Linked DNA regions of Homo sapiens. The protein of the gene in region 5 interacts with the protein of the main gene of each other region in a pairwise test. Each region holds a gene or a part of one and is shown on either strand. Other genes may lie near its edges. The genes, in order: HIPK1, RASSF4, RAP1B, RAP2B and RASSF5.

Evidence for each region.
Region 1: the proteins of RASSF5 (region 5) and HIPK1 interact in a two-hybrid assay, tested with the Homo sapiens proteins (one study listed by BioGRID).
Region 2: the proteins of RASSF5 (region 5) and RASSF4 interact in a two-hybrid assay, tested with the Homo sapiens proteins (one study listed by IntAct).
Region 3: the proteins of RASSF5 (region 5) and RAP1B interact in binary tests that used the Homo sapiens proteins (3 or more experiments, as listed by UniProt).
Region 4: the proteins of RASSF5 (region 5) and RAP2B interact in binary tests that used the Homo sapiens proteins (3 or more experiments, as listed by UniProt).

The regions. Positions count from the first base shown.
Region 1 is NC_000001.11:113,969,011-113,975,622, reverse strand, and holds part of HIPK1 (homeodomain-interacting protein kinase 1), read right to left. Parts: intron 5,668-6,612; coding exon 5,426-5,667; intron 3,800-5,425; coding exon 3,669-3,799; coding exon of another isoform or gene 3,585-3,668; exon of another isoform or gene 3,565-3,584; intron 2,600-3,564; coding exon 2,111-2,599; 3' UTR 1-2,110.
Region 2 is NC_000010.11:44,989,537-44,995,443, forward strand, and holds part of RASSF4 (ras association domain-containing protein 4), read left to right. Parts: intron 1-133; coding exon 134-185; intron 186-1,411; coding exon 1,412-1,533; intron 1,534-2,368; coding exon 2,369-2,466; intron 2,467-3,732; coding exon 3,733-3,793; 3' UTR 3,794-4,499; coding exon of another isoform or gene 4,500-4,635; 3' UTR 4,636-5,268; coding exon of another isoform or gene 5,269-5,405; 3' UTR 5,406-5,907. Other genes in the region: uncharacterized protein LOC124902530, read left to right, coding at 4,500-4,635, 5,269-5,405. UniProt on the Homo sapiens protein: Potential tumor suppressor. May act as a KRAS effector protein. May promote apoptosis and cell cycle arrest.
Region 3 is NC_000012.12:68,654,530-68,661,141, forward strand, and holds part of RAP1B (ras-related protein Rap-1b isoform 1 precursor), read left to right. Parts: intron 1-1,776; coding exon 1,777-1,920; intron 1,921-2,571; coding exon 2,572-2,658; 3' UTR 2,659-2,688; intron 2,689-4,750; 3' UTR 4,751-6,612. UniProt on the Homo sapiens protein: GTP-binding protein that possesses intrinsic GTPase activity. Contributes to the polarizing activity of KRIT1 and CDH5 in the establishment and maintenance of correct endothelial cell polarity and vascular lumen.
Region 4 is NC_000003.12:153,161,095-153,165,025, forward strand, and holds the start of RAP2B (ras-related protein Rap-2b), read left to right. Parts: upstream 1-1,131; 5' UTR 1,132-1,599; coding exon 1,600-2,151; 3' UTR 2,152-3,931. UniProt on the Homo sapiens protein: Small GTP-binding protein which cycles between a GDP-bound inactive and a GTP-bound active form. Involved in EGFR and CHRM3 signaling pathways through stimulation of PLCE1.
Region 5 is NC_000001.11:206,512,566-206,519,177, reverse strand, and holds part of RASSF5 (ras association domain-containing protein 5), read right to left. Parts: intron 1-6,612. UniProt on the Homo sapiens protein: Potential tumor suppressor. Seems to be involved in lymphocyte adhesion by linking RAP1A activation upon T-cell receptor or chemokine stimulation to integrin activation.

The DNA.
Region 1 (6,612 bases), about 93 Mb from region 5:
GGTATAAACACATCTGTTAACATGTTTTTTTCAACAAGCAAATATTTTACTAGGAATGTCAACTATGTGCAGGAAGGACTGCCACATGGGAAAAGGAAAAAAAAATTCATTCTAAAAGTGATTGCACATACTTTAAAAGAATGCATATTTAATATTGGCTTGACTCCTCTCACCTGCTTCCTGAATTCTCACAGAAGCAAGGTAGCAACGCACAGTGAGAGAGCCACATGGGGAAAATGCTTCTGTGAGAACTCAGCCGAGAATCCAAAATGGAAAGGGGTAGAGGTGGTGGTAAAGGAGAAAAGCTGCTGTTTTTATTTTTCAATGTTGGCAGGGAAACTGAGAACAATGCATTACACAATACAGCTACTAATCCTGTTCTGATAAATCCCGGTGAACAACTTAGGGTCCACGGGGGCTTGCTGGTCCATCCTAAGGCAAGCTCACTGTAAACTCTATTAACCACTACATTATCATATAAGGCACTACAATAAGGGAAGGAGGAAGAAAGGGAAGGAAGAGACACACACTGAAAAACTCCTCACCAGACACACCTGTGCAAAACAATTCCAAGGGTCTCCTCTCCTTGCAGGCAATGCCCCTGCTCATTCAGCACTACAGTAATATGCTCTAATATAATTGCAATTAGTTCACATACATTCCAACAAGTATCAGTTCATTTTGGTTTAAATACAATGGAGACATCAATCCATCTCCGGGATAACACTGGAGGATCACATACACACTAAGTACACAATTCAAGTGTAATCACTACACATTTGATTACAAATAACATTTTGGGTTAGCAGGAAAAATTGCTTGTTATATTTTTCTAATCAATATGTACATATTTAATTATGTAAAATATTAAAACACCACCATTACAAAACTTCTAAAATATTTTTAAATTCAGTAATAAATTTTTAAAATATTTTTTGCAATTCCTACATGCACTTATTATATAAGTCTTAATAAGAGAGCATTCAATTTGCTGCTGGCATACAAAGGAAGCTACTTTGAAGTATAAAAGCTATACACAAGAAATGTTCTTATCTGGTTTCAGGTTTTTTTAGCTTTCTCCCCAAACAAATCACATAAAACAGAAGGGAGAGATGAGCAAAACAGAGGTGTATTACTGAAAATTCATACTAATCTTTAGGCAAAGCTCATCAATGCCAGTATCTCATAATAGACAGAGATTTTGCATATAATAAAACCACCACCACCATGTAATAATAACCACCTTAATGGCTTTTTCGATAAAAAAATTTAAGCTGAATCAGAGAGAGAAAGACTTTTAAAAAATAATTTAAAAAAGAATTCATGGTGCTTCATTTAAAAAGAATACTTGGTGTTTTCACGCAGATATGGATTCTCTCACATTAAGTTACCAGCAAATGGTGAGCTGCCTTTTAAACACTACTTTATAACAAACACAGGAGCAATTGAGAGAATCTCAATAGTAACACAGAGTAATACGTAACCAGTTTTGCAAAAATAACAATTGCCCATTAAGTATAATATGACATTAAAACAAAACTGAAACTCTGTAAGTTTAAATGTCCAATAAACAAAAGGGAGATTGTGTAAGCCGCTTTTAAAATAAAATAGGCAAGTCTGAGTTTATAAACAAACAAAAAGTAATTTTTCTTTTTTTGTCATCAGATTTCAACTCCTTCTATCAGCATTTTTCCTGACCAGCAATCACAATAACACAAAATGAAATAAAGAGGGGCTTCACTTGTTTTTAAAAGCATTTATAGAAATCAAGTCAGAGAGACAAAATATTTTTCAGAGGGTAACTTCAGAACAATCTCTCTTCCTTGGTAACTGCAGAAGATGGGCATCTGAACTCTTCCAAGTACCAAAATTACTGTCACAAAAATAATGAATTTAAAAATAGGGCAAACTTTGGGAAGACTACAACAATGCAGTCAACACTGAGACAGGTTCCCCCAGAGAAAAACCTTCTGCTTCAGTGGGCCCCTGCAGAACAAGTTGCTGGCTAAGAAATTTCAAGAGGGTAAAGGAGGATCTCTCCATAGCCCAATATTAAGAACGCAGGGCCAGGAGAAGGTAGCCATGATTCCTCCTCCCTCATGCTCACCAACTATAAGTAGGAATACTGGCTGATCTTGGTAGGACTCAGCGGGTATCCAGTGTAAATTGTTGAGCCTCGGGAAGACCCAATGTAGGATTGGGTGGCAAACTGGTGTTGGTACTGAGCAGGGGCCACGCTGGCAGAAGTGAGGAGGCTGGGCCCAACACTGACAGGGACCTGGTGCACCAAAGTGCTAGGGTGAGTGGTATAGGCTGCAGCATGCCTTGAGGAACCCTGTGGGGAGAAAAGATGAGCAATGGAGCTGGTTGAGCCCAGTGCAGCAGCAGAAGTCGGGGCAGCATACGTATACAGATGAGCCTGGCTTGGCAGGTGAGCAGGGGCCGGGGCAAGGTGTGGGTGCCCTGTCGAGTGTAGCGGGCTGCCATGCTGGAAGGTGTAGGGGGCTTGGGAGAGAGGGGCCACAAACGCCTGCTGCCTGCGGGGGGCTGGGTTGCTGCTTCTCTCCTGTGAGGTTGGAGCCGCCGATGACTGCTGGTTCTGGAAGAAAGAAGGAAGAAGTGAGGAATCCTGAGGTCACTCCAGCTCAGGGCACCAAAGGCCAAGTTAAGAGCTCAGGTTCTGACTTGTACTGTTTTCGAATGGGTATAGCACATAATCTCCCACACTGGCATTGAATGCTGTCAGAAATCAGCCACCCCTCCTTCTGCCTCTTAGCAAGATAGATCCTAATCTGGCTCAGGTAACAGCATTTTGCTTGTAAGTATGACAGGAAGAGGGAGAATCAAGAGATCATAGGGTTCCCCACTCCTGCAAGTTAATAACTGGTGACTCAACTCACCCTATTCTGGCGTCAGTAAATTTGAATTTTTCCTAGCCTTTATTTCTTACCATTGCTTTCTTTTGTTTTCGTCCTCTAAGTTCTTCATACCCCTCTTGAAATGTGGAAACTAAAATACATGCACTAACTCAAACTTACATTTTCACTTGCATGTGCTCTCTCTCACATACCCTCATACTGACACTTTCTCACTACTGGTGGACATCATACAAGCACTCGAATTTTAGCTTCTAAGAGTGAACACAAATAGAATAAAGTAATGAGAGAAGCAGAAGGGTAGGTTGGGGCTGGGGGTGTTCGGAGAGTGGGGAAGTCCCAAATCGCAGACTCCAGCAACAAGTAGGACCTAGAACCAGTTGAATTTGGTGGCCAATGAGCTTTTCACAATCTCTTGACTCAAGTAAACAATGTAAGGATCAGCTTACTTATGGCCTGGGGGATAAAGAGAATCTGGTCTCAAAGCATATGCCTATCACAGACATGGTTAAAGCACCCCAGGCTCTTTCTAAATCCCAGACGTTTCTCTAACCTTCCAGGGTAGACTTAGGGAGGTCTGATGGAAAACCTAGAATGTACATCCTGAACACACTTACAGAGTGAATGAAGAGACACAGCATATGCGGTACGACGTAAGCCATAGAACACAAAATTGTTTGACACAAAAGGGGCTTCATTTGGCTTTATTCAGCATCCAGCCAGAAGCAGGGTTCTCCAGAAAGTAACAACAGTGCAGGGCCCAAACAGAAGGCAGTAGCCCATAGCACTTACCTGGCTAAGATTGAGTGGTTGTGCTGCACTGGTCCCCCCGCGTTGAGCTCGATACCCTGTGGGGGTGATACAGCATCCAGATGACTGCCCACTCACTGAAGCGACTGGCTTAGTCTTATTGCTCAGGAGACCTAAAAAAGCACCAGGCTTAATAGTTATGAGTAGACATCACTGAGCTAACCTCAGATGGCATCATATTAATTAGTCCACATCTGTATGTAGTTTGCAAGCATTAAGGTCTCAATTCTATTTACATCAGAAGAAAATAACCTGTTATCACCCATTTCTTTTCTGTCTTGGCACAAATCTCCACATAGGATCCTCAAAATGTTCACTTAAATAAATATTATAAATATTTTAACTATAATCTCTTGTTATATACAAGGAACGACTGGAAATACAAATATGCTAAGACACCATCCCTCTCTCCAAGAGTTTATAGTTTTATGTAGGAAGGGATTAAACAAGCACAGAAATGATAATGTGAAGCTGAGAAAGCTATTGGTAATTCTTAGGATATTAAAGTGGCAAGAGGGTTTAAAAGAAGGCAAAATTCTATCTTGTTGGACACTTACTGTCTTCAAATTCTTAGAAATTACAGGACAGCTGAATGTGAAATTTTGCTTGCTTCTGTGTTCCCATTAGGAAAACCAGAGCATTTATTCAGTGTCTCATGTGATAGCCTATATTCTCTGGACCCAAGAGCACACGGAGGTACTAATAATTCTATTCAGTAGCCTGGCATCAGGAAGCTCTCTCTCTTGTCTGCAATGGGACAACTGTCTACTTCTGAAAAGAATCACACAGAGGCATAACACAATACCCTCAAATTACAACCCTGTTTATGTCTATGGCAGTAAGATAATACATAATAAAACATAATTTATACAAGTATGGCCCAGGTTTATGTTGACACCTAAACTTCACCAACCCCTTCCTTGGTATGAAGTTGTCACTGAAAAGCAGCTGCCTTAACAAGACTACATTGCCTGGGCTCACTTGCATCTAGGTGGGGCCATGTGAGAAGCATTCACTATTTCCACTTATTTCCAGCCTAAAGAGGTTAAGACATGTGTGTGCCTCCTTCACACTTTCTTTCTCCTTCTGACTGGATGCTCAGGAATCAAACACTTGTACCAAGAAATTATATGAGAGAGAAGTAAAATTCTACTATGTTATGCTACAAAAATCTAGGATTTGTTACTGCAACTGCTATTACCCAACTAACACAATAACTAAACCAGGGAGCTTAAGTCCAGTATCTAACAGGGCAAAGATGATGGAAGTAATTGGGTTGGTAATAAAACCATCAAAAGCATCACTGCTATGACACTGGGTGAGAAAAAAATCTAAAGAATATAACTGTTTTCCAAAACACTTTTGCAGTCATTTTCAATATTATCAAGTCCTGTCTACATCTCAATTGCCAAATTCAAATCATCTGTGGCAAACCTAATTGCCTGCTAATTCTTCTTGCAATATCACACGTCTTGTCTGCTTTCTCCCATCAGCACTGAATGTGTTTCTGAGACTACAATCTCATTTGTATATTAATCCAAGCAAAATAAACACAGGAAGATAAAGTGATGGCCAAAAATAATTTCACATTGTGCAGGGAACTGATTTCTGAATTAAGGTCTCTTTAAGAATGTCTACACCACTGGTCTCTACCACTGATATAAGTGGATTATGGCAAAATATTTAAGCATTCACACATCAAAGGAGAATTCAACTCAAGCTGTGAAGATAACACTGACCTGAGGCCTGGGTTGCTACAGTGCAGTCACCAAGCTGAGTTTTCAGTGGAGGCACAATGATAGTGCGGGTGCCAGTGCCATCTGCCACAACTCTGCCAGGCCCCTCCAAAACGGATCCACTATTGCCTCGGAGAGCACTCAGGGTATCAGTGGAATAAGGGCTGCTCAAAGAAGAGTCAGAGTCTGGAGAATCATTGACAGTGACATAACTGATGACATTAGACCTTGGCTTCAGTCCAGAGCTGAGGAAAAGAAAAATACATGAAAATTGAATTGTTCTTTTTTGTGTGTGTGACAGCGTCTTGTTCTGTCACCCAGGCTGGAGTGCAGTGGAGTGATCACAGCTCGCTGCGACCTCAACCTCCTGGGCTCAAGCTATCCTCCCATCTTAGCCTCCCGAGTAGCTGGGACTACAGGTGTGTACCACCATGCCCAACTGTTTTTATCTTTTGTAGTGATGAGATGTCACTATGTTTCGCAGGCTGGTCTCAAATTCCTGGGCTCAAGTGATCTTCCTGCTTTGGCCTCCCAAAGTGCTAGGATTGCAGGCATGAGCCACCATGCCGAGCTTCAACCACCCTTTTAAGCAATGTTTCTTAGATGATCTGTCTCTGGTTCTCCCATGATAACAATGATGATAAAGATGGTAATAATAATAGTAATATTAGCAGCAGTAAACTTCTGGGTACTTATGTATCAGGCACTACTCTCATGCTCCACATACATCTCACTGAATCCTTACAACAATCCTATGAAGTAGGTACTATAAACCCCATTTTGCAGATGAGGAAACTAAGGAATAGGGAGATGAGGAACTTGCCCAGGGTCACACAAGAAGTGATGAGTGGTGAAGACAGGATTCAGACCCAGGACAGAATGACTTCAGAGTCCACACCTCTAACACCTCCTGTATGTTGCCTCTACCATCTTACAATTGGTCCTTTTGAACTAACAGGCTCTAAATTCATTCTAAATTTTCTCTTCCAAGTTCACTTAAACTTCATTTCTGCATGACTCTGTAAAGTCTCCTAAGTTACTTTCATGTGTGAATCCTACCTTCTCAGGTAAAAGCAAGAGGTCATTCCCTCTTCCGTATGCCCAACACCAAAAGCCCCATCGAAGGCTATGCTTCCAAAACACCTTTTTCTTCGGCCCTTTTTTTTGGGTGGGGGCGGGAGGGGATGCAG
Region 2 (5,907 bases), on a different chromosome or scaffold from region 5:
GGAGGTTGGGAGAGGACAGGTTCCTTGCAACTTGCGTGTGTGTTACTGGGGGTGTAGTTACTGTCAGGGGACCCTCTCAGTTCTCTCCCATCTCCAAGCACCGTGATCTGACTTCCTGTGACTGCCTGTGCAGGTGGAAGATGGCCCCAGTGAGTTCGCACTCTACATCGTTCACGAGTCTGGGGGTAAGTACCTGCCCCACTTCTGGATCGTAAAAGCAAAAGGTCTCTACCTGTTCAGCAAGCCCCCTCCCCACCAACCACTGACTGTACTCCCTTCCAGATGGGCTCCGTGCTGGCTTGCCTAGTGGGCTAGGGCACACTGTGCCTCCCAGCATGAACATTTCTCCCCCACCCAAACCCAGGCACACTATGGAAGCCTTGAGGAAAAGAAAACATACTTTTGGCTTCGAATTTAAAGCACATTAAAATGTCCTTGGATTTTCTAGGTCGCTCAGTACATTAAGTTTAATTCTTTCAGGATTCTGAAGGAGAATCCCACCAAGCTATAGGAAGCCTCCCTCTCCGCCTCTTCCAGAGAAATGGATGGGTGGGTACCTAGCTCCTTGGCGCCGAGTCAGGAAGGGTGGGGTGCGTGTCGCAGTGCATCAGGCCCTGGCCCTCCCGTCTCAGCTTTCCTTTCTCCCACCCCTCAGATCTTGTTTCTCTTCAAGCTGCACCTTTGCTGAATGACACTGTAGGGGAGGAAAATTATCTTCTCTTTCTACCCATTTAGGTTCACTGGCTGGGGCCCTGTATTTAGATTAACAAAAGACAGATTAAGGAGAAGAACAAACAGAAGTTTGTTAACACTTGCATCATGCATGCCCTTTGGAATATCCAGGGATGAATGGTCAGAATTTGGGCTTAAATAGCATATTCACAAAAGAGCAGTAAGTTTTTAGAGAAGTGACAAGACAGAGGAGAAGGGCCTGAGTTTCTGGGGAGGCGAAGGGTGGGAAGGTCACCGCACGGGGAGCTGCGGGAAGGGAAGGGCTTCAGCGGGACGTGCTGTGCAGGTTCCTCTGGTGCCCTCTCCAGGCTGAGGAGGGGCTCGGGTTGTCTCTGGTGATTAACTCCATCATTGCCTAGAGAGGGACGGGGGCACACCTTGACAAATTTATGTCCTGCTTTTTGGCAAATAGGGGAGGGCAAAGAGCCTCACTTGTATCTTCTTCTTCTCAATTGCCAGCCGCTCCACTTAATCCTTATGCCAAAGTGGCAGATCTGGGGGCCCTGTTCTGCCTCCCTTCTGCATGAGCAGGAATCTCTCAGGGCAGCGCTGTTAGCGAGGTCTGTGTTCTTAGGGTTCCCTGCGCCCCTAGACGCACATTTTCTATCAGTTCCTAATCTGGAACAGACAGAGGTGATCCTAATCTCCCGTGATTTTTGTAAACCACCTTCTTTTTCAGAGCGGACAAAATTAAAAGACTGCGAGTACCCGCTGATTTCCAGAATCCTGCATGGGCCATGTGAGAAGATCGCCAGGATCTTCCTGATGGAAGCTGACTTGGGCGTGGAAGTCCCCCATGAAGTGAGTGGGGGCCAAGGCTGGGGAGGCCTGCTCTAGGGTGAGGGGTTCTTGGGTGACGGGGCCTCCCAAGGACTCCTGGCCAGAGCCCTGTCAGTTGATGTCTCCAGGAGCTCCACACTCTCCCAAAGGGCTCCCAGCCTAGCACAGGGAGGCGCCAGCCCTCCCTCTCCCATCAGTGACCGCCAGCACCAGCAGCTTAGGGGAAAGAAGAATTTGGGTCCTATAAAACCATGGCCTGTCCTTTTCCTCTAGGGAAGTAAAGTCTTTTCCTTCATTGGAATGTATTTTGTTGTCATTATGTGAGAGACCTATGCAAAGGCTTTTTAACTAGGCCCTACCTCGCACCTGTGGAAAACAGGGAGATATTTAAGTCTTACCAACAGCCTGAGTTCTGACCAGACAGTGAGTGCATTTCCAAACTCCTCTGCATAGAAGATGCTTACAGGGTTTGAACCTCAAGTAGGAGGCCTAGTGACCCCGTATCCCTCAGGCTGCTGCAATTGCATTCCATTGTTAGAAACAATGGTGCTCCCACCTCCCTACCCCCTAGCCCAGAGGGCACCCAATGTGACAATGCTGCTGTACTGAATGCTCTTCCTAATATTCAGTTTAATATTTCCTCCCAGGGATAACAGTTGCCTTTGAGATAGTAATAGGCTCCCGTCCTGGCATCTGTACACAACACAGCAGTGTGGGGGTGGGGTGGGAAAAGCGGCAGCTCCTTCTGTGGATACAAGATGTTGGCTGGATGGGCCACTATGGAAGCCTTGAGGAAAAGAAAACATACTTTTGGCTTCGAATTTAAAGCACATTAAAATGTTCTTGGATTTTCTAGGTCGCTCAGTACATTAAGTTTGAAATGCCGGTGCTGGACAGTTTTGTTGAAAAATTAAAAGAAGAGGAAGAAAGAGAAATAATCAAACTGACCATGAAGTAAGCAGCACTTAAACAGACAGTCATGGGTCCTGAACATCAGGGCAGGTCTGCAAAGCACAGCACCAGTGCCGGCTGGGAGGTCTCTCTCCTCCATGGGCACCAGTACCCTGGTACGGGAAGGCCTGCTAACCCTAGCTCCCCAGCATCACCCTCTGGCCCCCTGCTCGGTATTGCCACCACGCTGGGGTGACAGCTTGCCAAAACAGTGGGACACAGCCCCGATCACCCATCCAGTCTTGGCATCCTCACCAGCGCAGGCATGAGCTGCAGAACACCTGGCAGGAAAGTCAGGCAGGAACCCAAGTGGGCGCTGGGTCAAGCTTCTGAGTTCTGCTGGTGATGTGGCTCCAAGGAGCAGGCATGCTGAGGCAGACTTGGCCTGATTAGGGCCTTTTGTCCTAGTGGGAATTCTGAGCCTTCCCCAAAGTGGCAGATGCTGGAACTCCCAGCCTCAGCCGATGTTTTCAGGTGCAGAGGGCTAGTTCAATGAAAAGGTGAGCAGGTCTCACCTGCCAGCTCCTGGGGACACCACGCCAGGGTCCGGATGCATGAGTTAGCCAGGCTGTAGTCCCAATGACGTCTCCCCCTCAGCAAAGTGAAGTGTGGTCCAGGACTTGTGGAGGGCACCCCACCAGGGCTGGTGGGGAGGCAGCTAGGAAGGAAAGGGCAGGAGCTCACTGAGAGGGCCTGGGGTGTGTGGGGAAAGGATGGATGTTAGCCTCTGGTTGAATGACCCGTGGAAAGCCACATCCTCCACAGGCTCCTGTCTGTGCAGCCAGACCCCAAACAGGCAGAGGAGACCAAAGTCAGAGGGAATCTTCCATTCTGCAGTCAGTCCTGACCCCGTAAGATTTGAGAGCTGAAAGGGATCTGGGGGGCAACTAGTGGGTCCACTCAACGTACAGAGTGGACGCTGAGGCCCAGCACAAGGAAGGTTGCCGCATAGGTTATGGCAGAATCTGGGCTGAAACATGGGCTTCCCGATCTCTGCTCTACCGCCCTGTCCACTCCAGTGTGCTGTTGTCTGTATTAGAGTCTGCAATAGAAATGACAACACTCTGCTCTGATGCTCTGTGCAGTCCACAGCCTGGTTTGACTGCACCTCATGAGGCGCAGGCCACAGCCTTCCCCCTCCTTGGCAGAGGAGAGATGAGGCTGCTGCAGGGATCTCCTGAGCTGGCCATCTGCAGGTCCCTTGCTCTGCTGCCCACCTCCCTGCCCTGTCTGGCCTCAGTGAGTCCTCTTGGCGATGTCTCCCTCCAGGTTCCAAGCCCTGCGTCTGACGATGCTGCAGCGCCTGGAGCAGCTGGTGGAGGCCAAGTAACTGGCCAACACCTGCCTCTTCCAAAGTCCCCAGCAGTGGCAGGTGTACACTGAGCCCTGGTTGCTGGCCCCGGCCGGTCACATTGACTGATGGCCACCGCCTGACGAATCGAGTGCCTGTGTGTCTACCTCTCTGAAGCCTGAGCACCATGATTCCCACAGCCAGCTCTTGGCTCCAAGATGAGCACCCACAGGAAGCCGACCCAGGCCTGAGGGGCCAGGAACTTGCTGGGTCAGATCTGTGTGGCCAGCCCTGTCCACACCATGCCTCTCCTGCACTGGAGAGCAGTGCTGGCCCAGCCCCTGCGGCTTAGGCTTCATCTGCTTGCACATTGCCTGTCCCAGAGCCCCTGTGGGTCCACAAGCCCCTGTCCTCTTCCTTCATATGAGATTCTTGTCTGCCCTCATATCACGCTGCCCCACAGGAATGCTGCTGGGAAAAGCAGGGCCTGCCAGCAGGTATGAGATCTAGCCTGCTTTCAGCCATCACCTTGCCACAGTGTCCCCGGCTTCTAAGCCTCCAATATCACCCTGTGAGCCTCGCACAGCTCAGCCCCAACACAGAGGTGAGACCAGGAATAAGGCCACAAGTATCTCACTTTCTCTGCAGAAATCAATCTTTACTTCATCAGAGAGACCTAAAGCGATTCTTACAAGGAGCTTGCTGCAAGAAACACGGTCATTCAATCACATTGAGGAGGGTCCACATGGCATTGAGAGGGTGCTGCCCGCTCAATGCCCAGCAGCAGCTCTGGAAGGCAGTGCTCAGCCCCATCACCACTGTCCCGTGGATGCCTGTGTACCTCTTGCCTTTTCTGGGCTTGCGTTTCTCTCCTCTAGTGGGTGGGGATGACTTTCAATGACTTTCAATACTTCCCCTGAAGGAAGAATGATAAGGAGAAATGTCTGTTTTGAGGAAAGGGCTTTGAATTCCCCAGATACTGAACAATTTGTGTTTGTGACTGATGGAGAATTTCAGGAATGAATGAGAAAGCCTTTGCGAAACTATGCAACAGTTTACATCAGTCATGTGAAGTATTTGTCTAAAACAGAGCAAACTGAAGACCAAATTATTCTCCTGTTGAGGTCCGTGGATGGCAGATTTAAAGGGAAGAACCACAAAGGCTTGCAAAGATAGGAGAGGCTCCATCTCTAATGCATGTAGAAGCTCCTTACGGGTGCCCATCAAGAGCATAGCTTGGAAGCCACCATGCTGTGCGGAACTGCGTCAGGGCAAATGTCACAGCAGGATTTCCCCAACCCAGCTCCATCATCACAGACACAGAGAGCTGCAGGGGAGGCCTGCCCACTGTTTTGTCGACTCTGCCCTCCTCTGGCAGCATAGATCCTTAGGTGCTCAATAAAGGTGTGCTGTATTGAACTGAAGAAGTGAGAACCAAGCTTTTTTTTTTTTTTTTGCTTTCTGTGCATCCACCCTGACCCCCGGCTCTAACTTCTGAAACTCTTATCCTAAAGGATGTGTGGCCATGTTTGGCAGAAGAGCCACAACTCGCTGCTCTAGGAGCCGACATGACTCCTTCATTTCTGTGCATGCCCTGGGGACTAGGGTGGAGCCTGAGGAGAGGCTGCCATGGAACACGCAGGCGTCACTGGTGGGAGCCTAGAGGTGACCTGGATGATGAGCAATAGAGTCACCCCGAGTCACAGAATCTTAGCATCAGGAGGGCCCCAAGAATCTTCCAGGCCAGGGGCTCAGGTGGGATGGAAGCAGGGCCTAGGAGAGGGTACAAAACAAATCAAACAGGAGCTCCCAGGTAATTGTACTCCCAAGCTATTATTTACAATCTCAGGTGGAGGACAGCTCCTGTCCCATTGTTCAGCTGTAACTGAGTGACTGCCTTGTGCCAGGCCTGTGCTCAGCCCTGGAGGCACAAAGATGGAGCCAGTCTGTCCTGTGTCTAGGGGTCTTCTCATCAGGAGAAGAAGGCCAGACACTGGAAGGGTCAAGAGATCAGCTGAGCAACGAACCGGCAAAGCTCCTGGGAGTGAGGTGGAGGCCAAGGCAGAGTTGGCTAAGAAGTGCATGTGGCGTCACAGGCCAAGATGCACCTGCCAGCTAGGAGCAGGCCAGGTCCTGGCACACAGGAAGCCAGT
Region 3 (6,612 bases), on a different chromosome or scaffold from region 5:
TGCCCAGGCTGAAGTGCTGTGGTGCGATAGCTGTACCTCCCGGGTTCACGCCATTCTCCTGCCTCAGCCTCCCGGGTAGCTGGGACTACAGGCGCCTGCCACCATGCCCAGCTAGTTTTTTGTATTTTTAGTAGAGACAGGGTTTCACCATGTTAGCCAGGATGGTCTCGATCTCCTGACCTTGTGATCCGCCTGCCTCAGCCTCCCAAAGTGCTGGGATTTTAAAGGCAAGAAATACATTAGATTCTAACATTATTAATTTAGGTGCCCCTTCAGAGTCTACCATAATGGAGTTTAATTCCTCATCACACTAAATATAGCAGTGGTTCTCAAAATTGATTTTGCATCAGAATCACCTGTAGGACCAGTTAAAACAGATTGCTGGGCTGAGATCTCAGAGCTTCTGATTCAGTAGGTCAGCAGTAGGACCCAGGAATTTGCATTTCTAACAAGTTTCGAAGTGGTGTTGGTTTTGCTGATCTGCATACTGTAAGAACCAGGCTGGGCATGGTGGCTCACACCTCTAATCCCAGCACTTTGGGAGGCCAAGGCGGGTAGATCCCCTGAGCTCAGGAGTTCAAGACCTCCCTGGGCAACATAGCAAAACCCTGCCTTTACCAGAAATTTAAAAAAAAAAAAATTAGCCAGCATGGTGGCGCGTGCCTGTGGTCTCAGCTATTTGGGAGGCTGAGGTGGGAGGATCACTTAAGCCTGGGAGGTGGAGGTTGGCAGTGAGCTGAGATCACATCACTGCACTCCATCTAGGGTGACATAGTGAGACCCTGTCTCAAAATAAATACATAAATAAGACTCATTGTACTGCAGTTTAATTTTAGCAAATATTGTGAGAGCTGGGAGACACCCATGGTAAATGCTTTTATTTTCTGGACTTCTGAAACAAGGGAATTTGGGGGGACCCTACATAATTACAGCAACCTCAGGGAACATTTTTTAATTTGTAAATCCATTTAATAAGTGGCTTGATTTTTAGTAAATTTTGATTGGCTTTTTTTTTTTTTTTTTTGAGACGGAGTCTCACCCTGTCGCCCAGGCTGGAGTGCAATGGCACGATCTCAGCTCACTGCAACCTCTGCCTCCCAAGTTCAAGCAATTCTCCTGTGTCAGCCTCCCAAGTAGCTGGAATTACAGGCGTGTGTCACCATACCCAGCTAATTTTTGTGTTTTTAGTAGAAACAGGGTTTCGCCATGTTGGCCAGGCTGGTCTCCAACTCCTGACCTCAGGTGATCCACCCGCCTCGGCCTCCCAAAGTGCTGGGATTACAGGCGTGAGCCACTGTGCCTGGCCTTGATTGACTTTTTTAATACAAGACTATGAGAAACTAAAAATTCTATTTTGGGAGCCTTCCGTCCATTATGATAAAATTTTAAGGTTTTTTCCCCCCATCTCTCATAACAGGATCATAGCTTGTTTTCTCAAAAGTTTATGTAAAAGTGTCTTATTTATGTCTACATTGACTAGGTTGTGTTCATTTTACTTAACATATGAGAGTTTTCTTTCTCTCTTTTCTTCCCTTTGGAGTTATCGTTTGCATCTCCATGAAAAGAGAAGGCAGTGGAGATAATTGACATCAAAGTTAATACTTATGTTTATGTTACAGATTAAATTGTTAAGGCTGTAAATTTTATTATACATTATTTAATATTTTTTGTGGCATATGAAAAGTAATTCTTAGATTTGACTCTTAGAATTCTTTTGATTTGAATTCATATAGCATATTTACTTATTTATTTTTACTCTCACAAATGTATTTTTAGGTTCCAATGATTCTTGTTGGTAATAAGTGTGACTTGGAAGATGAAAGAGTTGTAGGGAAGGAACAAGGTCAAAATCTAGCAAGACAATGGAACAACTGTGCATTCTTAGAATCTTCTGCAAAATCAAAAATAAATGTTAATGAGGTATGGTCAAATATACTTAAAATGGGTCTTCATTTGAAGTACAACATTGAAGATGAATGGAAAATGTCTTAACCCCAAGTTAATATGTACTCAGGGTAATATGTTGATGTTACAGGCAAAAAAAAAAAACCCTCATGTTAAATGTATCTATGTAGTAAATAAACAATACTATTTCAGTCTCTATTAAATACTTGTACATTGATATTTACCATGAAAAAGGAAGACTGGACAGAAAATACATGGATAGGGAAGACAGATTAAGACTTCAGGTATATGAAGGATGTTATATGAAAAATAGAGTAAAATTCCGAAAAGTATGCATGGTTCTTGAAAGGCTCCAAGTCATGTTGTAGAGCAAAAACTTACAGTTTTTAAAAGGATTTTTTCTTTGTGTGATGGTAAATGTTCTAATTGAACTAAGTTAAGATCTCTGCAGCTCCTTCAACTAAGTATTTTAAGGAGCACAATATTAACACTCCCCAAAAATTTGAGCTTGGCAGTTATAACACCTGATTTTATTCTCATTCCTTAGCTGAACAATTCTGGGCATTAATTTATATCCATGGAAATTTCTGTTTTTTCAATTTACTTTTTTCATTGGGGGGGATAGGTGTTCCTCCTGTAAATTAAAACAAATTATTGTATTTGCAGATCTTTTATGACCTAGTGCGGCAAATTAACAGAAAAACTCCAGTGCCTGGGAAGGCTCGCAAAAAGTCATCATGTCAGCTGCTTTAATATACTAAATGCATTGTAGCTCTGAGCCAGGTATGTTCACTTATCTTTCCTCTAACTTTTAATCACTCAACCTTATTAAGGGCACTCTGTCATGAAAGCAAGTATAGACTTCTTTTTGTTGGTTCTGAAAAATAAATGGTTTATTTTTATAAGATATCCATGAGTTAGTATGCTATCTTATTAATTATTTACTTATCATCATGAGTAAAGTATTTCACATAAGTATTCTTTTTTTGAGATGGAGTTTCACTCTGTCACCCAGGCTGGAGTGCAGTGGCGCAATATCAGCTCCCTGCAACCTCCGCCTCCCAGGTTCAAGCAATGCTTCTGCCTCAGCCTCCCGAGTAGCTGGGATTACAGGCACGTGCCACCACGCCCGGCTAGTTTTTTTGTATTTTTAGTAGAGATGGTGTTTCACCATTGTTGGCCAGGATGGTCTCAATCTCTTGACCTCGTGATCTGCCCACCTCGGCCTCCCAAAGTGCTGAGATTACAGGCGTGAGCCACCACTCCCAGCCAACCCCGTCCCTAATTTAAAACACACACACACACACACACACACACACACACACACACACACACACACGTGCGCGCGTGCGCGTGAGCCACCGCTCCCAGCCAACCGTCCCTAATTTAAAACACACACACACACACACACCCCTGACATGTTCATCATGTGCCAGTCACACACACACACACACCCCTGACATGTTCATCATGTGCCACTTTTTTTTTTTTCCTTCAACTTTTAAGTTCCAGGATACATGTGCAGGATGTGCAGGTTTGTTACATAGGTAAAGGTGTACCATGGGGTTTGCTGCACAGATCTTGCATCGGTACCTGGCACATAGTTAACACTCAACTATTAGCTGCTGCTGTTTGCCAATGATAATGGTTTCCTCTTCAGCTGTCATTAAACTGTTTATTGTTAAACTGTTAATTTATTCTTAAGAACCTTTGACATTCCTGACTCTTATTTCTTCCTATGTTAATTGACTCAGTGCTGCCATAGCACTTTGATTCTGCATCTTTTCAGAGTTTTTATTCCTGCCTTCCATCTAGGGCTTTCTGTTTAGTGGTATATCCTCTCATTCTAATATCCTATAATTCCTGACCACATGCCCATTCTTAGCAGCACACATGTGCTTGAGCTCACACACTTCCATCTGTCCTTTTTAATTTGCAACAGTCTGCCAGGATTTAGAAAACTTGATTGCAAACCTCATTCAGACTCAGAATGAGGACCTAAAGTTCTAGGCATTTGTGAAAATTATTTCAACAGCCACATATGTATTAACAACTCTTCTGGAGCTTGTAACAAGTCTGATCACCAGAAAAATATAATAGGGAACATTTTTTTAGCCGAGGCATGTATGCAGAAAACTATTCAAAGTACATATTTAACAATTCTAAGTTTACTTTTTAAAATCTTTAATTACATGTGATTTTAGTGTAATACCACCTTTTTCTGACATCAGTCTTAATAGAATGTTTAAATATGGAATTAGAAATTATATAACGTGATTGTAAATCTGTAAAACACCATCATGAAATAAATTCTATTTGTCTGCTCTGAACGAGCTTTTTAGCCACTTTCATTGAAAGAGTGAGGAAGAACTTGATTATCTGATACTAGAAACCTTGGTTAGATGTGCATTCTATACTTATGATCTAATTCTAGGAGTACATTACGATTGTGTAAACACAGGATCACCCAGTTTGTTAATATTGCTATCTGACTTTTCAATCCTAATTCTAATAAGGTTGACTTGACTAACAATTTTAATGTGATTTTTTTCCTTTTTAATCCTTGGAAGGTAATGCACAAAAATTTGCACAAAGGTACTTTCCCTTTCTGTTCCTAAGATTTTCATTTAACTGACTTTCAAGAGGGCAGCAGAATAGACTTCATCTTTTTGGAATGAAAAGGTCTGCCGTGAATTGTGGTATGTTGCCACTAATGTAATGCCTAGAACAAGAGCCTAGATTATATTCATTTCTAACACTTTTAAGACTGTTTTCTTAACTGTTTGCTTTTGGGTCTTTACTTTTTCTAGCCCATGTTTTTAATTAATTTTTTTCCTTTTGACAGGTCTGAAGAACTGTTGCCCAATTCAACAGTGCCAGCATTCCAACTTTGTTAAACCTACCAACATCTTAAATGGACTTTCCTGTGGTGGTACCCTTTAAGAGGCGGATGAAAGCTACTATATCAGTTTGCACATTCTAATCACTTTCCAGTATCACAAGAGAGATTTTTACTTATATAATAGTCCTAGAGTTTGCAGCTGGTAAAACCAGAGGCTACATCCAGTATTACTGCTAAGAGACATTCTTCATCCACCAATGTTGTACATGTATGAAAATGGTGTACTGTATACTTTAACATGCCCCATACTTTGTATTGGAGAGTACAATAATGTAAATCCTAAAAGCACCACTATTTTAGCATAATAAAAGAAAGTCCAAAGAGCTCCTATATAGACTACTCCAGATAACTTCGCTTCTTTGATACTTGTAGCTTATTGTAATTTTTTTTAAGAAATTCAAGGTCATTATTATTGTACAAAATAAGCGCTTTGATTAACACAGCTATATAGTTTTTTTAATTTTTAAAAAACCTGTGGAGACGGTGATCTTGTCTTTAAAACATGATAGTCCTTTCAGTATAATGTCTTAGATTAAAGACGTTGCCTTTAATATCTGTTGGGAAGGAAATGTCCAGACTTTTCAAATCTCTTATTATATGTTTCCTTTTTTTGTTTACATAGGGAACAATGTTTATAGTCGTGTGTACAGTGGGGGTCTACAACAAGAAGTGTATATTTTCAAACAATTTTTTAATGATTTAACAATTTTTGTAAATCATTTTCAGGCTTCTGCAGCTGTAGATTCTCACTGTGAATCCCTTGCTTGCTCATGCATAAGTGTATTTGCAATACCAAATATACAGGTTTAGTATTTTTGCCTGTTAGTGATTGTTTCACATGTGTAACGTTTTGGTTGAGATGTTAAATGGTGGACGAGTACTGTGGATGTGAATGTGGGAAGTAATTTTAATCATATGTAATTGGTCACAAGGCCTAATTTGCAGTAACTATTGCTGTTTTATTTAACAATGCCTTGTTGCTTTGTATGCATTAATGTTTGGATGTAAAGATTGTGTGTCTATCCAACAGGGAGCCACAGTATTTAAATTGACCAACCTAATGTTACAACTACTTTGAGGTGGCCAAATGTAAACTAAAAGCCTTAATTAAAGTGGTGCAATTTTGTATAACTTAGCATCAGTAGTTCAATAAATTTGGATTGCCATGCAAGGGCTTGCATTATAATTACTTGCCACTTGAATGTGTTTTGTGTAATGTTTTAACAGTGCTAGTAAATAAATACGGGTTTACCCTGGTTTTAATTGTAATAGGTGCATTTTACACAGCATGGTTTCATAATTTAACATCTGGGCAAGCCAGACTCATTAATTACAGGAATAAGGAAGTAGCGAGTTTTCTGGTATTGTTTGAATATCCACATAACCACCTTTTGAACTTTTCCTTGAGAAATAATTTTGTAAATCAAGCAGTATTACTTACGAATAAATGCCTTTGGGTAATGTTCAGTAGCTATTTGATGAGGTAGGTAAAAGAGGAACGATTTAACATACTTTCATGGATGTTACACTATGGATTTTTTAAAATACAGGATTGAAGTTAGAATATTGTGGTTATAAAAATCTTTGAGTGATGTGGATTAAGCACTTAGAGAATCGATATTTTTCTTAAATATGCTATAATTGAATTCTGTAAGAACTGAATTCTTATAGAATTATTTTAAAACTTTTTAAAAATTGTAAAGCTCTTAAAAAACTTTTTGAAAGTATTTGCCAGCTACTGGAGCAATTAATCAGTGATAATATCTAATAGAGGGGTATCTGCTAATCCCCTAAATACACGCTGT
Region 4 (3,931 bases), on a different chromosome or scaffold from region 5:
AGAACTATATTTAGTTCTGAGCTCTCAGCCTAAATGCCTCTTATTTTTTCACTTTTACTTCAAAACGCCAGGGTTGGGGAAGTGGGAGGCAGAGGGTGGGGGAGCAACGGAGAAAGAACAGCTGTGCCTCCGCCTCTCCGCTCAATCTCTATAAATAACCAATCGCGAGCGGAGGCTACTTTTTAGCCAATGAAGCGCCCCAAACTGATAAAGCCTTGGCGGCAGCCAATGAACAACACTTAGGGGTGTCAGACTCGCGCCCCGAGACCAATGAGTGCAGAGTCTGGGAGAGGTAATTTGAGCTAGAGTGTGGGTGTGTGGTGCAAAAGCTTCCTACTTCCAAGCCCAAAAACCTGCTCTGCGACTGAGCATGCCCTGAACTAACTGCGGGCGCCCTGAGACTTCTGGATTGGGATGTAATCCGGTCTCCGGGTTTTGACCGCACTCGAGCGGGGAGGTGGGTACGACCCGCGGGACCCTGCCCCGAGAGAGCTGCAGGTACCAGAAGCTACCCCTTTCCTAGTCGGAACAGTATCTCAGACTTGGAGTACCTCCTGTTTTCTTTGTGCAAGGCTGCAGTGCACAGAGTCGGTCAGAGAAGACAGAGTAGCGTTTCTGTGGCGAACGGTTTAGAAAAATCTATGGGGCAGGTTTGCTCCGCCGGCTGCTCGTGCATTCCACGGCACCCACAGGACTTCGGGTTTCCGGCCCCCAGACCCACGCCCGCCCGGGGCTGAGTGAATGGCGTCCTTGGGCCTTTGATAACGGGAGTTGGCAAGACCACAGCCTACTCCATCCCTGAGGCGGCCCGCCGCGCCCACGTGCTTCTCGCAGAGCCGCCGCCCTTGTCCACCACTCCCACAGCTGTAAAATAAAGCGGCCTGCATGCTTCCTACAGCGCTTTCCTCGCTCCCATATACGCACACACACCCCATCTTCCAGCCAGTTCCTAACTCGCGCCACTCCCCAAATCGGACTCAAATCCGGAGCCCCGCCCACTGCCCCGCCCCCTCCCGGCCCCGCGGAAAACCAGGAGCGGCCGCTTGGGCAAGGCGCGGCCGGAACGCACTGGGCATGCTCGCCGGGGAGGGGCGGGCCGGGCTGCGCGCGGCGAGTAGGAAGCCCTCGCCCAGTAGAGGCTGTGGGAGAGAGCGCGATGGGCCGCGGCGGTGGGCGCACGTTCCGCGGGGACTCATGCCACGCGCGTCCCGGCCCGACGCGCAATTAGCAGCCACCTCCGCAGCCCGCCGCCACCGCCTCCCTGCCCTCCCGGGCTGCCGCAGCTAGGAGCTCCAGCCGTCGCCTCGCGCAGGCTGCGGGCATTGTCCTCTCGGTTCGCCGCCCGGGCTGCTGCTGCCGCCGCGGACTGCTGCGGGGCCCGGACCCGCACCCCAGGGATACGCTGCCGCCGCCGCCGGCCGGCCCGGCGCCCGGCCTCCGTTCGGTGGTTTCCGCCCTGCGTTCTCTGGGTTGCTCTCTCCTGGGTTTTTCCTGCGTAGCTGAGGAAGGGGAAGAGAAGTCCAGCCGCCAAGCCCAGCCTTCCCCGGCGCGCAGCCCCGACGGGGCCGCGGCAGGCGCGGCGAGAGCGCTGACGGAGCCATGAGAGAGTACAAAGTGGTGGTGCTGGGCTCGGGCGGCGTGGGCAAGTCCGCGCTCACCGTGCAGTTCGTGACGGGCTCCTTCATCGAGAAGTACGACCCGACCATCGAAGACTTTTACCGCAAGGAGATTGAGGTGGACTCGTCGCCGTCGGTGCTGGAGATCCTGGATACGGCGGGCACCGAGCAGTTCGCGTCCATGCGGGACCTGTACATCAAGAACGGCCAGGGCTTCATCCTGGTCTACAGCCTCGTCAACCAGCAGAGCTTCCAGGACATCAAGCCCATGCGGGACCAGATCATCCGCGTGAAGCGGTACGAGCGCGTGCCCATGATCCTGGTGGGCAACAAGGTGGACCTGGAGGGTGAGCGCGAGGTCTCGTACGGGGAGGGCAAGGCCCTGGCTGAGGAGTGGAGCTGCCCCTTCATGGAGACGTCGGCCAAAAACAAAGCCTCGGTAGACGAGCTATTTGCCGAGATCGTGCGGCAGATGAACTACGCGGCGCAGCCCAACGGCGATGAGGGCTGCTGCTCGGCCTGCGTGATCCTCTGAGGCGGCCACCGCGCGCCGGCCGCGCTCTGCGCACAAAAGCCAAACGCATCCGACTCTCTAAATGTGATTTATTTCTTGCTTTGAGATTGGAGACCACTTTGCATTGGCCAGGGTGTCTTGGGAGCCCGGCTGGCCTCCGCGGCCGGCGTCCCCTGCCTCCACCCTGTGCCCGAGGGGGTGTCCGGTCCTGCCCATCCGATACTCTGGTGGAAATGTGGCTCTTTGCAGCATGTACGTTTCTCCCTGATTTTGGTTGATGCATATTTCCCCGTTTAAGTAGCCGTTAGGGCGCAGTATCGGCAGCTTGACACCCACCAAGCAAAAGTTTCAGCCTGGAAAAAAAATGGGGGGGAAGGGTGGATGAAAAGGAGGGAGAGAAGGTGGAAATGGTTTTTTTTTTTTTTTTTCTATTTTCTTTCTTTTTTTTTTTTTTTTTTTTTGGTCAACAGCCGTTTTTCTAGTTCCAAGTTTTAAATACATGGAAGGAAGTCCGGGAGAACCATATGAAGGAGCAGGAGGAGAGGAAGAAACTTTTTTTCCTTCTTTTCCAGGAGTAGCTGGAAATTAAGATCGGGTTCCTTTTCTGCCAGCTTGGAAGGGCAACCCCATGACTGATTGCGATTCTGAGGATGTCTATGCAAAGTTGGATTCTTGTTACAGTGTATCCAATCTGAAGTATTGCACATCTGAACTGGGACTGTTAACACTGATGCCAATACAGTGTGGGGTGCCAGAAAGTGTCTGCTGATATTTGTGGAAAAAAAATCTATTTTGTTTACCTACTGTATCAAAGGGGAGTCTGGGGGAGAATGGTAGTATTTTTTTTTTTTATCAGCTGTGAAAAAAATGTTACAGATCTGCACATTTTCGTGTGTACTATGGTGTGTGTGTGTATGTGTGTGGTGTGTGTGTGTTTTAAGTTTAGCCTTTTGTTTTTGTTTTTTGGTTGGCAGTAACCGATTTTAATGACTAGCTTTTAAAAATACAGTACAAAGACTTTGTAAATGTGATTCAGGGCCCCCAGCACCCCTGTGTCTGCAGAGTGCCTTCAAAACTCAGCTGTTCCAGCCGGTGCCAACCTGTGAACTTCCCACCATATCCCAGAATCTGCTATTCCCCAAACCACTTCCCAGTTTCCTTTCAGTAATCTTTCTGAAGGAGCCAGGACAATAGGGCCTGTTGTTTAGTGAATTTCTTTATTATTTTCAGCCTTTAAAATGTAATTTCCATCTCTTGCAATGAATTTGTTTCCCTTTTTTTTGCTTCATTTTGTTTAAATTTTCAGGTATTTAGCTCCCCTTTCATATTATTTTTAAATTTTTTAATTACCTGTTGTAGGGTGTTCCTCCAGAAGCAAAGAGCAAAATTTTACTGTTGTGATGTACCAATTCTAACTAATTGTAATTTTTAATTTCATGCGTTTAATCATTGTCTCTTCATTTTAAGACTTTTAATACAAATGTCATTTTTAAAGAAACAAACCCAAAACTATTGTTTGTGTTTCTGTGTTTCATATTCAGTGATTTAATACAGTATCATGGCTGAGGTGGATGGGGCAGGTGCATGATACTCTTCAGAGCTATTTGTGAAATTTTAAAGACAGAAGTGTCTCAGTGACAAGTTGGATGACACTACTCCCAACTTTTTAAATTTGGAGAAAACCATCAAGGTCGAGGAAGCCCTGGGTATGGCCATTACCATCTGATTAGAAGATGAACAGGTATTTTGAATCTGATCTGACATGGAACAGTTTACCTCATTGTAGGTAGGGAACAAGAGA
Region 5 (6,612 bases):
CTTTCACTCACCGCTATGCCGTCCAGTTATCCTTCTTCAGGCGAGGACTGTTCTTGCCCTAATTAGTGCTCAGGAGAGGAATCAGTGGTCTGGCCACTTCCCGAGGCCGGGACTCCTGTCAGCTGTGCTCCACCCAGCAGCCTTCAGCCCCATGCAGCCTGCACCTTCACTAACTCTGCAGGTGAGAAGCCTTTGCCTGGGAAACATCACTGCTCCCAGGTCCTCAGAAGGCTGACTCAGCAACTTGGCAGGGTCTGAAGGGCTACAGGATAGGCAGAATGGAAAACAGTGGCCATCCGAGATACCCATATTCTGCCAGCTCAGGGACCCTGATTAAGACGACCGCTTGGCCCTAATTCTCAGCCAATAAAAAGTTGTTAAAATCCACTACCCACTCAAGGCCTCCAAAACAGGCAGACCATGTCCTTTGGATCTGGCTGTTCAACCCATACCAGGCAAGGTGACAGCACCTGTGCCTTTGTCCTTGCGGAGTCAGGAGGGCCAAGGAGTGGTGCTGAGCTCAGCACTAAACAGCAGACTGCCAGAAAGATCCTGTACTCCTTTTCTATGGGAGAAGCCAGTAGCAGAGGCCTCAGAACCCAAGCTCCCCCAGTCAGATTGGCTTAGACCTACCCCGAGCCCTCCGGGCCCCGTTGCGGAACCTCTGCAGGATCTGGTGCTTTTTGGAGACCGAGCGGCTCTTCGGGAGCCTGCAGAAGAGCCGCTGGAGCTGAGCAGTGACTGTCCCAAAGCAGGCAGCGGTTGCCTTCTCCTCCTGGCCCTCGGTCATCTCAGCGCCAGAGATCAATAGCTTTTCTCCAGGCTTGGCGTCAGGGGTGGAGTGCCGGGTGGGGGAGGGCTCCGGGGAGGGCCCTGGGCCTCGCATGACCTGGACAGTCACCTGGACCCTCAGGCTCTGGTACCCTCAACGACTGACGATGCCTTCTGTCTCCGCACTGAGGTCCTTTCCCCTCCACCTCCCCCAGTGGAAAACTTTCTATTCCTGGGGCTTTTAGCTTGATAAGATAAAAATGCCCCCACCAAACAGGCTGCAGGGAAGAGCCTGCCCCGAGCCTCACTTCTCAGTCGCGCCTGTGAGTCTGAAAATCAATGTCTCCAAAGTTTCAGACGACAGAAGTGATCGGTTACCTCACACCACGTGCCCAGCCCAGGAGCTCGTTAATGGATTTCTTTGGGGATGGTGGATTACTAATGCTTCACCAGCTGTACAGGCTCCTAAGGGACAAACTGGGGCTAATTCACATCCTCCCATGCTAAGCCCAGGGTGGGGGAGGGGCCCATAAGGAGGTGGTGTTGCTTTAAGAGGGTCAGGCCATTCATTTTTCTGAGACTAGATACCTGAGCAGAAGCGGATGTGACCCTATGGGTGTGGGGTGGTGAGAAAAGATCAGTCTGTCACAAAAGGGCAGAAATATTGTTCTCTTGCCCCAAAACAGTACTCACAGGTGTTCTCTCACTCTGACTCCCAGAAGCTGCCAAGCCCTAGTAGAAAAGTTCTGGGAGGCCCTGTTGCCCAGTCCAAGACAGAAGACTGGCACCAGACAGGCAGCAGAGCCTTCCAGAAAAGCCACTAGAGAGGGGTGTCCCTCCCAGGCTGCCCAGAGATGACAGGACTCACCTGCCAACCACCAGCGGGGACCAGCTTAACATGAAGGAGGGACACTTGTTCTTTTTTCTTTTTTTTTGAGACAGGATCTTGCTCTGTCATCCAGGTTGGAGTGCAATGGTCCAATCATAGCTCACTGCAGCCTCGACCTCCTGGGCTCAAGTGATTCTCCCACCCCCCAGCATGTAGCTGGGACTACAGGTGGGCACCACCACACCCAGCTAATTTTTATATTTTTTGTAGAGGTGGGGGTCTCACCATGTTCCCCAGGCTGGTCTCGAACTCCTGGGCTCAAGAGATCATCCTGCCTCAGTCTCCCAAAGTGCTGGGATTACAGGGGTGAAGCCTCCATGCCCAGCAGGGACACCTATCCCTTAACCAGAGGAAATCCACCTCAGAGGACTCACACACTTGCAGAATCTCTGGTGGAAGATGCACTTATACGTCTGTGCTCAGATGCCACCCTTCCTCAGTTGCGGACTGATTCTTTCTCCCTAATGCTTCCTCAGGGAGAAGGGAGCTGCCCATGGCCTTTGTTGTGGCCCTCTCTAGTTTACCAAGCAACCTCTGTACCAGAAGAAGGGCATAAGCAAGTCCGGGTCCTGAAATGACACTTGGGACCATCAAACAAGGGGTGGGGGCCAAGTTCCTTGCCCTGCTGGTCCTTGCACCCAAGATCTCCAAGAGGGCCTAGGAAGTCCTGCCTGGCTGAGCACAGGCAAGGGCTCATTCCCATCCCCGCCCTCAAAGAAGAGAACACAGGGCTGCTGGGGGAACTTTAAAATATGAGTCACGGCCAGGCGTGGTGGCTGATGCCCGTAATCCCAGCGCTTTGGGAGGCCGAGGCAGGCGGATCACAAGGTCAGGAGATTGAGACCATCCTGGCTAACACGGTGAATCCCCATCTCTACTAAAAATACAAAAAAATTATCCGGGTGTGGTGGCACGCACCTGTAGTCCCAGCTACTCAAGAGGCTGAGGCAGGAGAATCACTTGAACCCAGGAGGCAGAGGTTGCGGTCAGCCGAGATTGCACCACTGCACTCCAGTCTGGGCGACAGAACGAGACTCCATCTCAAAAAAAAAAAAGTCACGTGTAATGCGGGGAAATCCCTTCCGAATGCACCGTTTGGGCTGCAGAATATGCTGACCTCACTTCTCTTTTCTCCTCATCACTGAGCTGTTCTTTGACAGGTTAAGCCATTGGGAAAGACAACAGGAAAGAACTGGCAGAGTCTGGAGATGGGGCTTTCAGAAGCTCTAGGATCTTCATTCCTGACCTTTGGAAAACTAGATAGATTTTTCTACTGTAATGATGGTCTGGGAGGAGCACTACCTAGAGACAGGGAAATGCCTGCAATGACCTCTTGCTGTCTCTGACATCTAAGCAATGACTCAATGACCTCCATGCTGGAGGCAAGTTCAGCCATGGCCCAGCATAATTTGAAGCAACAACCTTCACCATCTTACTTGCTGGGGTACAATATATTATCACCCTATTTTATATAAAGGTACCTCCAGATGGCTTTTAAAAAACACTCATCACTAGGGTAGACATTCATGGACAATATGCTCAACGCTTTCTCTCAAAACTCTCATGTTACAGCTGGAATCTGTTCCAGTTGAATAATAAGGCATCTCTGAGGTTTTGTTTGAGGTGGGGGAGGTTAATACTTTCTTCAGATGCAAAAAATAATCCACATAATTCTTTCAGCAGAGACCACCAAGTCTCCAACTTCCATTCAACTTGGATAGAAAAAACAGCCTCCTGCAAATCAGCAAGAAAAGTAAGCAATGGTACCTGTTCCCAAATAAGAGATGAACCTGGAGAAATATAGAGAGTCAGAGCTGGCTTGGGGGTGGGAGGTTTCCCCAGATGTATTTTTTCTCATGGGGCCACATCACTGCCTGAGATTAGAGCCAGAGGTCCATTAGGCAGCTTCAGATTATTGTCCAGTCCCTATCCATGTCTTCTTCACCCTAGCTGTCCCCTCTAGGATCCAGTCTGTTAATTTCACTTTGGTTCCTGACTAGTGCTGTGTCATGAACTCTGAGAGCTGGGCCATGGCAAGAAGGAGGACTGGAACAGAAAAAGATCCTCCACCTGCATTTCCAGGCCCACCCCCTACACACCCTGAACACCTACGGGGTGAGGTGGGAGCGGGGAGAGACACACTTATTTCTTTCATCTTAGGATTTGGAAAAACTTCACCCTTTTTCTAAAGATCTCATGATTTGCACATGGTGACAATCAATTTAGAAACTGATTGTTGAAAATTGGCTTAAGTGGAGCCAACTCTCAATTACCCAGCCCTGGCTGATTCTCTAGCTTGTATAGGGCTCACCTCCCTTTTTTTCCTGTACCTCCTTTTTTGGACATTTCAGCATTCACCAGCAGAAGGGCAGCAGATGGATAAGTAAACTCAACTAACTTGCGTGATCAATGATATTAGCCTAAGGCAAAATGCCATGCTGGGTTCTGGTGCTGGCTTTGCTATTAATGATCTGGGTTATCTTAGCGAAGTCATTTGACTTCCCTGAATGCTGTGTTTCCTCATCTATGAGATGGCCCTGATTACATCAGTTCTACCGACGAAACAGAATTGCAATCCTGACAGAGGCAGTGCACATCAAACGGCCTTAGTGATAGCCAAGTGCAACAAAAGTTATTTCTGCTCCCACAGTTTCTTTGCCATTCTCAACTCTTCCTATTCCATGTGAATATACTCATCCTAGCAGGTTCACAGAATGCCAGCTTGTATCTTCAGCAAACACAATGATAATTCTTTTCCAGCTCTAGCATCCAGTAGAAACAAAACATAAAAGGATTTTAAAAAAATAAGAACATCACTCTTCTTTTTGGCCTGACTTTCATGAACCTGGAGTCTGATTTCTTAAAGGTCTATGTAAGCCAAGTTTTAATTTTCTAGCAGCCCCAGCCAATGGCCATTGCAGATGTCTAAATAAGACCTGCCCCACCCTGGAAATATGTTTGTTCAAAAAACAGGAATGGGGAGCAGAAGGTGGCACATAGGCCCTCCACTGAAGAATAAACCTGTCACAGGTAAGTGTCATACTCAGCCATCCACTCACCTGCTCAGTGCCACACAAAAATGAACAGACTACTCTTTCCAACACCACCCCTCTTATAGACCCTCAGCATGCACATCTTGCATTCCCCCCGATCCCTCTGCCCCATGCCCTCAAATGGGGCCAGGGCAGTAGTTATAGGTAGGAAAATCCGAAAGAAAATCTAGAACCTGCTACAATTCCCAGGGGTCACCAGACTCCTCAGCCAAAGTGGGGCATTCTCCCCTGGGAGGCTGGACACATGCTATGATGCCAGGAGGGACCCCACTGCCCTTCCTCCTTCCTCTCCAAAAAGGGTAAAAAAAGAGAATCAAACCTCAAAGATTTCCCAATGGGTACATCTCTCACAAACCTTTGTGTACTCTAGGAACCACAGGCATGCTAGAACAGGCCCGGCATGGCCTTGTGGGCCACTTCAGCCAAAGACCACACCATGGAGAGTTCTTGGGGTCTACCAGGCTCTGCCCAAGTCTCCTCAGCATAGTTATGAGTGCTTCAGAAAAAACTCAAAAGTCACTTCCCCAGGTGTGAGTCAAGATAGTCTTGACCTTGGGGTGGGGCAACCCATGACTGCTCCCAAGCCCCGACTTTATTCCACTTAAACCAGTGCCCCCAGGGAACCCAGCCTTCTGCCTGGTCTAACGTCATCACCTCAGCCTCCTCGCTGTTTCCCCTAAGCCCCAAAACTGGCTCTGTTCCCCTTCCGACCCTGAGATCCAGCCCGGAACATGTGGAGAAAGGCTTGCCAAAAGTCTTGGAAAAAAACTGAAAATGACTAAATGCAAAACCATCTCCCCAGTCAGGCCCGGCCTTCCCAGCTGCCGCCAGCCCTTCCCCACCCAGCCATGGAGAGTCAGAACAGAGCCCTGCGGGAGGGGCAGGTGCCCAGAGTCAGCAGAGACAGAGCGAGACCCTGCAGGGAGGCAGAAAGCATCCTGCCACCAGCACAGACCCAGGTCTGCAAGCTTGTGAGAAGGAAATCATACCAGCTGGTGCTGACTGAGCCCCAGGAACATGGTTCCCTCAGAAGGGCTGGGGGTGGGGAGCTTGCATGCTTTGCACACCCACAAATACTCACCCACCCAAGAATACTCACCTTGCCATCTGAGGAATGCGAACAGGAAGGGCCTCTGGTGAGGCCAGAGATGTGTTTACAGGTTCCTCAGCAGCCTTCATAGTAAGCCTGGGCAGAGCAAGAATGCCAGCAGCTGCCCTCCATGGGGAAACTGAGGAATGAGGGGTGGGTGTGGGAGCCAGAGAGAACCCTGTGGGAGAACACTGGGGTGCAGGAGCTGGGACCCACCCATGGCCATCCCACCTCAGGTAGCAGCCTCTCACACAGAGGTGCTGACTCTGAAGCCCAAAGCGGGGGAAATGGCTTGAGGGCCTGAGACAGCACCAAAGCCTTGAAGACCTGTCAGAATGAGGCCCGCCCGAGAGGTTCTAACTTTACCACTGTCCCTGGCAAAGCCAGCAGGTGACTCCTGGCCAGGTAATTCCCTTTCAGCTGAGCTAAGCATCCCTGTATCCCTGTATTCTGACCTCATGAAACTATTTTGAGCATGAATGTAGCAGCGGGCATGAAAACACTTTGGGCTCTTCAGAGAAAAGGCACTACTGACATGCAAAGAATTCTTCTTATGCCCATTCTCAGACCTGGGTTCGGCCTTGCGGCAGCTTCCCCTGAGCCTCTGGCCCCTGACCTGCTCACACTTCACAGGAGGTAGCTCCCTGACAGGATAAATTCACTCTCCCACCGAGGCAGGGCCCTTGGGACTGGGCTGGGGGCTGTCTTTTCTTTGTCACTCAGGGACTACCTGCCAGGCTTGGCACAGGCTGGCTCGCCGGTAGAATTGGGGAGAAGAGAGAGGATATCAGACCAAACCCTCAGTGCTG